Linked DNA regions of Homo sapiens. Changing the gene in region 1 together with any one later gene gives a genetic interaction. Each region holds a gene or a part of one and is shown on either strand. Other genes may lie near its edges. The genes, in order: GNA12 and TEC.

Region 1 (3,821 bases):
ATCCATGAATGCAGAATGAATGAATGAATGAGTGAAGAAGGGGAGAAACAAGCAGACTGGGCTTTGAGGCCCAAATTTCTCACAGTGATTACCAAGATGATGTGGCCTCAGGCACAGCATAACTGGTACGGGCTTACTTCCATGTCGTGACAATACAAGGGCTTGACTTCCTAAATTGGGAGGTCCCTTCCAGCACTGACACCCTGCACTGACGGAACAGGGCAAAGACAGAAGCCTGTCAAAGCTGCTGCACCATGCCGAATCCCAGACAGAAGCCTCACTCAGTACGATCAGCCCCAGACACTTCTGCTTCCTTCTTTGGAAAATCCTCAATTTCCATCCAAGTTCTAAATGAATGAGAATCTTCTTTCCCAGACTCTGTGAGTGTATGGGGAAAAGGTGTAAACCTCAATTTCACATTGAGATACTGACATGTATTTCCCAATTGTTTCTTCCAGCCCTGCTCTTTAGGAGATTAAAATTTCCTTTCTACCGCAACCACATCTTCCACTCTCTTTTGATTCTTTTACCTTAACTGTTAAAGTTAACTTGAGAAGGAATGTGCAGATGGAAAGGGGCTAGTAAAAACGTCATCCTTAAGATGCCCTGGAGGACATTAACATTTACAGGCAAAAGCCTGAGGAGAAACAGGCTATTTGCAGGGTCTCAATGTATCTCCCTAAGATATGTGTTAACAACACAGAGAAAATACTGACTTCCCAGTGGAGAAAGGTGGCCAACAGTGCCTCAACCAAGCAACCCAGGCTTGCATCACCAGCCACTGGACAATATCACGCACTTCCTGATCAGATGATCTGAGCAGGGCTCAACGGCACGCCTGCGGTTTCTGTGCCAAAAAAATGCATCCCCTCATCCTGATGACGAGAAAATACCAGACAAACCCAAACAGGAAGATTCTACACAATACCTGGCCAGTGCTCTGGACATGTCAAGGTCATGAAAGGCAAGGAAAGATCAAGGAGCTATCATGGACTGCAAGAGACCAAGGGGACACAATGACTAAACACAATGGGGGATTCCAGGCCAGGATCCAGCAGACAGGAGCGCGAGAGGAAGCAGCGGACAGGACGCGAGAGGAAGCAGCGGACAGGACGCGAGAGGAAGCAGCGGACAGGAGCGCAAGAGGAAAGGTGGGTCACATTCAGACAAGGTCTACAGTTAATTGATGCTTTCATACCGATGTCAACTTCTTAGTTTTAATAGTTGTATAGTGGTTAAGATGTTAACATTAGGGGGACTTGGGAGAAGAATATAAGGAAATTGAACTGAGGGGACTATTAGCAGACTATATAGCACCTCTCAGATGATTGAGAAAAATAAAAATTACTCTGCAGGAAAAGGATGGGTAAAAGATATGAATAGGGTGGGGCATGGTGGCTCACACCTGAAATCCCAGCACTTTGGGAGGCCGAGGCGGGTGGATCACCTGAGGCCAGGAGTTCGAGACCAGCCTGGCCAACATGGTAAAACTCCATCTCCACTAAAAAATATAAAAATTAGCTGGTGTGGTGGTGGGTGCCTACAGTCTCTGCTACTCGGGAGGCTGAGGTGGGAGAATCACTTGAATCCAGAGGTGGAGGTTGCAGTGAGCTGAGATGGCGCCACTGCACTCCAGGCTGGGCAACAGCGCGAGACTCCATCTCAAAAAAAAAAAAAAAAAGGAAAAAAAAAGACGTTTCCAATAGCAAAATATGAAAAACAGTTCAAAAGTACCTCAATGAAAGAAGGAATGGATCCTAGTATCTTTCCACAGTGGAGCATCAGACAGCAGTGAAAAGGGAAGAACCGCTGCTATGTGCCTCGCCTGATGAAATTCCAACATGTGGAGTGAAAAAGGCAAGTCACAGAAGCATATATACTATACACTAAGAAATGACTTATATGAAGGTTAAGAATCAGTAAAACTCAAGACTGTCGTGTTTACAAATAATAAATGGGTATTATGGCAAAATCATAAGAACGGCAAAGGATTCATGACTTCAACTTGACTCTGGGTGCTAAGGGGGCAAACGGCTGTGAGAGTGAGAGGCATTTCTGGATACCCTGGGTGTGTATTAATATCAGCTGTGCACATTTATGCTGGTTATCAGAAAAATTGTACATTTTACTTTATATACGGTTAATTTTGAAAGGTAGAAAAAAACAAAAAGCAAACAGGCAAAACCCCCCAGATTTTCTGGTTATAGATTCAGACCCCAAATGAATCTAAATAACTGGGCTTTGTGAAGTTTTTAGACCTTAAAACGAAAGGAACAAATCTGAAGGGAACAACTGGGAGGAGTTGGATTTGCTTCCGAGGCGCTGATCTGAAGGCGTTCGTGAGTTGCCCATACCCACAGGTCCAAAGTGGGAAGCTGTTGTGGGGGGTGTTATTTCCTACTATGAACAAGATCTCTAAAAAAAACTAAATTTCTCGGGTTGTGCCAATGCTGATGATTCTAAGAACCCTCCGTATTCCCAGAAGAAAGCTATTGATCTTACCTGAGTGGCTCTTGCTCCTTCCCCTCTTGAGCCTTTTATATAGCATCTGCCTCCATCCCGTGTTTTGGTTGTTGATCATTACAACTTACGGTGATTTAGAGCTTGCTTGGACTGTTACACAGTTTTTAAGGAAATTCAACTAACGGTCCAAAATAGTCATGTAAAAAACACACTATCAGGTGCCCAGCAAGAAGGCCTACTCACTCACCAGCTGAAACTCGCTTCTCCGGCTGAAAGCCTCCCTGATGCCAGAATCCCTCCAGAGTGCGCTCAGGGCCGGGACGTACAGCTGGAAGGTGGCCGGCTCCACAGGCAGCCCCGCCTTGTTCTCGAAGGCCATCAGGAACATCCCATGCTTCTCATTTTCAGAATACTGCCAAGGAATGCCAAGCTTATCTCGTGCATCAACAAGAACCCTTGAGCCCTAGAAAATAAAAGAAAGAAGAGAGGATTTAATTGCATTCCAAAGACTAAACCACGCTAGAGAAGCTCAAAATGGGCATCCATTGTCATAACGCAGAAAACTCACAAGCTCTGAGCTGTGCAGCCTGAGTCTGTCTCTTGGTTTGTTTGTTGTGATGTGGAAAGTCTTAACTCTCAGCAGTATAACCTCACCAAGACAGACGCACATGGCCGAGAGCAGTGGCTCACACTGTGAGCCTCCCCTTTGGGAGGCCAAAGAGGGAGGACTGCTGGAACACAGGAGTCTGAGACCGGCCTGGGCAACAGAGCAAGACCCTGCTTCTACAAAAAATTAAATCAAATTAAAAACAGCTGGGCTTGGTGGTGGCACACCTGTAGTCTCAGCTGAGCGGGGAGGATTGCTTGAGCCCAGGAGGTCAAGGCTACGGTTATCTATGATTGCTGCACTATATTCTAGGCTGGGCAACAGAGCAAGACCCTGTTTCAAAAAAAAAAAAAGAAAAGAAAAAAGAAAAAAAAGAAAACAGATGTACATAAGCACCACAGAAAGAAGTCTGCTTTCTGCTATCATTCATTTGCAAAGCTACTGGAAAAAAGACAACTGGGCGGGGAGGAGGTGGCAACAATTTCAGAAAATTTCACTGGAAAATGAAGTGTATCAGTAAAAAAACAACTTTTTTTTTTTTTTTTTTCTTAGATGGAGTTTCACTCTTTTTGCCCTGGCCTGGAGTGCAATGGAGTGATCTCGGCTCACTGCAACCTCCGCCTCCCAGGTTCAAGCAATTCTCCTGCCTCAGCCTCCTAAGTAGCTAGGATTACAGGTACCTGCCACCAGGCCCGGCTAATTTTTTATTTTTAGCTGAGATTACAGACCACCACGGACTGCTAATTTTTGT
Region 2 (3,821 bases), on another chromosome or scaffold:
GGCAATGGATTGGAACCAAATATATAAGTATCCATAATAACACTAAAAATAAACTGTTGGTTACCATTGTTATCACTAGAGAAAGCTCAGTCATCAACTCATTATTCTGAAAACTAGTAAAAGTTTAAGAATCCAAATTTCATCTTTCCTTTCCTTCATGAACTAAATGAACTGGTATATGAGGCAGTTCTTCTTTAGAGAACTACTAAATGCAGATGGAATGACAAAATTAGGAAATCACCATTTTGTAACCCCTAATGAAATAATGACTCTAAGAAAGAATCATTAATGAACCCCCAAATCATCAGGGTAAATACCAATGAAGAACTTTATGACAGAGGAACAAGTCTGACACCTGAACCACTAAGCAATCTTAGCATTACTAAAAGTAGGACATCCAGAGATCACCTTCTAATGTGATCAAGCCTCTAGCTCTACTCGCCAGTTCACAAGAAATACAAGAAACACAGGCATATTAAGTGACACCACAAGAAAACAATCTGTTTCATCTAGATTATGGCTCATTTTAGTGTTAAATGACCTGCTTTCATCAATAAATCAAAAATGTAGAATAAGAGAAACATAAGAGATATATTAACCAAAATGCAGTGTGTGGGTCCTGATTTGAATAAACCAACAGTAAAAATAAGTATTAGAGCTAATCGGGGAAACTGGAATTACATAATTGGTTCCATCCTTAGACCTGGGCCAGAGAAGCTCTTGCTCTAACCCCACACTTTTGAGAGCTCTGCAAAAGTGCGTGTTCCCTCTGACCTGTGTTCCCATGCTCCTTTCTGGGTAACTAGGACCCCAGAACACCCTGCTCATTTCCAAGGTCTACATGGGCCTTCTACTGGGTCCATCTTCTAAAAAACAAATTGTGCTGGCTGGCCATGTGCATTCCCTTTCACTGAGGCTGAAGGTGTGGCCATGATGCGGGGTAGCTTTTGCAAGCCACGCAGTAAGAGTGTGGGTGTACAGGTTGGAAGATCCATATGGTACATGAGAGATAGAGCCAGGGCAGGAGGGAAGAAAGAAGAGAGGTAGCCCCCCCAGAGCCAGCTTTCCATGCACTGCAACATTCTGGCACAGAGCTCTAAATCCAAACCGTGCCTTTCTTGTCACTATGAAAGGGTATTTGTCAAGTTGGAGGATAAAGTTTGCTAGCTTGATTTATAACTCCTAAATACTTAGATATATGTTATGTGGATTCTCATTTGTACTCTTCCTCCAGGTACAAAAATATTAAGGGAAAGTCTACAGACGATCTTATTTAAAATACTGTTATTAAGAATGATAATGACATGGTGGTGTTTTTTTTAAGTCTTTAGAATTTAGATTTAGGAGTGAAATAACATGATGACTTGAATTTACTTTTAAATATTCTAGAAAAAAATGGAAGGATTAGACTGGCAAAATGTTGGTAATTTTTGAAGTCAAGCAAAAAGAGATTCTATTATACTATTATATACTTTTTGGATGCTTGAAAATTTCTACAACAAAAAAAAATTAAAAATAGAAATCAATCTTATACAGCATCCGATAAAGAGAAGCAGTGACAACCTTCCTGTAAACATGGAATAAAAGGTTAAGAGTTGCAAATAAGTTAATAATGCACAGCAAAACAGCACTCATATATGCACCATGCCTAGGAATCAAGCAGAAGAAAAGGACCCCGCCTAAACTAGAGGTTTCCACTGCTTCTCCAGAAGTGAACTGAGGAACAGTGACTTGAAATTGGGGCTGGGGCTGGGAGGTGAGAGGGCAGGTGGAAGAAGAGTGTGCTCTGGCAGGACAAAAAGTTCTCCTCTTCTCATCCACTGGAACTCAGAGTATAAGTGGGATTGCACTGCAGAGGTAAACACAGGATACAGAGTTTGCTTATGAAGCCTGCAAGATACTCATCCCCTACAGTTACCCCTATCTGCCCATATATTTATCAATGATAGGGTTGAAAGGACTGTTTTCTTTAAATCCTAAATTAACTTGTACAAAAAAAAGCTTGCTGTTTAATTTCCTGCATGTACATATATATATTTTATATATACATACACAAACACATATACACACATATAGACACACACATATACATATATATATATTCTCTTATTCCTCCATATATTCATGGAGAGAGAGAAAGAAGTGAGAAGAGGCTTCATTATACTGTGTATGTGTATGCATACACACACGCACATACACATACGTATATATAGAGAGAGAGAGTCTAAGAAAAAAATTACAATAAACTCTTAGAAAAATCTAAGATTACTTACTTATGGCAGGTGGGGACAAAATATAAAATTTAATTTCCCTCAAGGTCAAAATAATCACATTAAACATGTATCAGATGAGAAAGAGACCAATGTATTCTAACTTTTGAAAAGAAGTGATTGATCAATTCGCATTTACTGAGTGACCACTAAGAAAGGACTGTGTTACTACCAAGTAATAAGGTGTGCTTCCATTTATGGCTGGTGAAATTAGTCTCATTACACGATAGTTACGACTTATCTACTTCTCACTCAACACTTGACTCCCACCTACCCACTGCATATCACACACATAGAGGGAATACTTACCCATATTTATCTCTTGCTCTCCACCAATGAACATCATTCTTTTCTAAAATGAGATACTCTTGGCCTCTCTCTAATCTGAGATCATGTCCTTCTGCTGCTTGGAAATCATACATGGCTACAACGATTTCTTCACTATTATCTTCTTCTTCTAGTGGAATTGGTGGGGGAGGCCTTCGCTAGACAAGGAAGATAACATTTGAAAGTTTAGTCTTCTATATGAAACTGATCATGAATCAAAACACTAAATGAGTCATACATCACCACAGAATAAACTAGAAACTTCAAGTCTACTTACTATAATCCAACAAACTCTCATGAAGAAGAGTATTATAATTCCTGTTTCATAACTAAGGTAACAATGATTTAATTAACCCACTCAAAGTCACTCATATCAGATCAAGTCTTGAATGAGTCCAAAGTGCATGTTTCCTCCACTATACCCCACTCCTGAAAGGCATATCATTATATCAGTGAAGTCACTTCTTTGTCACACTGTGGTCTTAAGACTGAAATATTTATCTAAATCCCACTCCTCTTAATACAACTCTTTAAGTGAAAATAGAGGCAAAATGCCAGATGATAACAGGATCTCCAATGATAAAATCTCATACAATTAAATTGGTATTATTTGACACCACAAAAAATTGAAATAAGCTACAGCACATCTGCTTCTGAGACGATCCTAGGGAAAAATTGTGTCACATCAATGAATAAACCGCATACTCAGTAAGTCACAAACACTACCAAAACTTAAGACTTAAAGGCTTAAAATGTAAAGATTAACTATCAAAAGCTAAAGACCACCTACCTTCTTTGTTTCTGGTGCTGGAGGTAGTGCTTTTCTTATACCTGAAAATGCCAACAACAAAAACAGATTAAAATGCTATCTACCAATAATTGATAAAAATAAGATATGGGTAGTTTTAAGGAAAAGTGGAAGTTAACACATAGACAAGCAGCACACTCTGACCAACTCTGGTGTATGCTGCTTGTATCTCTATTCTAGAACAGAATTAAAAACTGCTATTATAGCTGGTTTGTATTTCTGCCTTTCTGAACGCACAATAAATGCCACAGGGATTGAAGCCAGGCCAGTTCTTTGTATTCCTACCACTGCATAAACTGGGCACTCAATAATGCTCATGGAATCAAACATTGAAATCATGACAACACTGAGAAATTAATCAGCTTTGGCTGTCCATTCCTCTACAGTCCACAGTCCTAGAGTTTTGGCTGACACAT

Evidence for each region.
Region 2: of GNA12 (region 1) and TEC, changing one enhances a phenotype caused by changing the other (phenotypic enhancement), as found in Homo sapiens cells (one study listed by BioGRID).

Annotation. Positions count from the first base shown.
Region 1 is NC_000007.14:2,792,218-2,796,038, forward strand, and holds part of GNA12 (guanine nucleotide-binding protein subunit alpha-12), read right to left. Parts: intron 2,927-3,821; coding exon 2,711-2,926; intron 1-2,710. UniProt on the Homo sapiens protein: Guanine nucleotide-binding proteins (G proteins) are involved as modulators or transducers in various transmembrane signaling systems. Activates effector molecule RhoA by binding and activating RhoGEFs (ARHGEF12/LARG).
Region 2 is NC_000004.12:48,165,199-48,169,019, forward strand, and holds part of TEC (tyrosine-protein kinase Tec), read right to left. Parts: intron 3,429-3,821; coding exon 3,388-3,428; intron 2,756-3,387; coding exon 2,580-2,755; intron 1-2,579.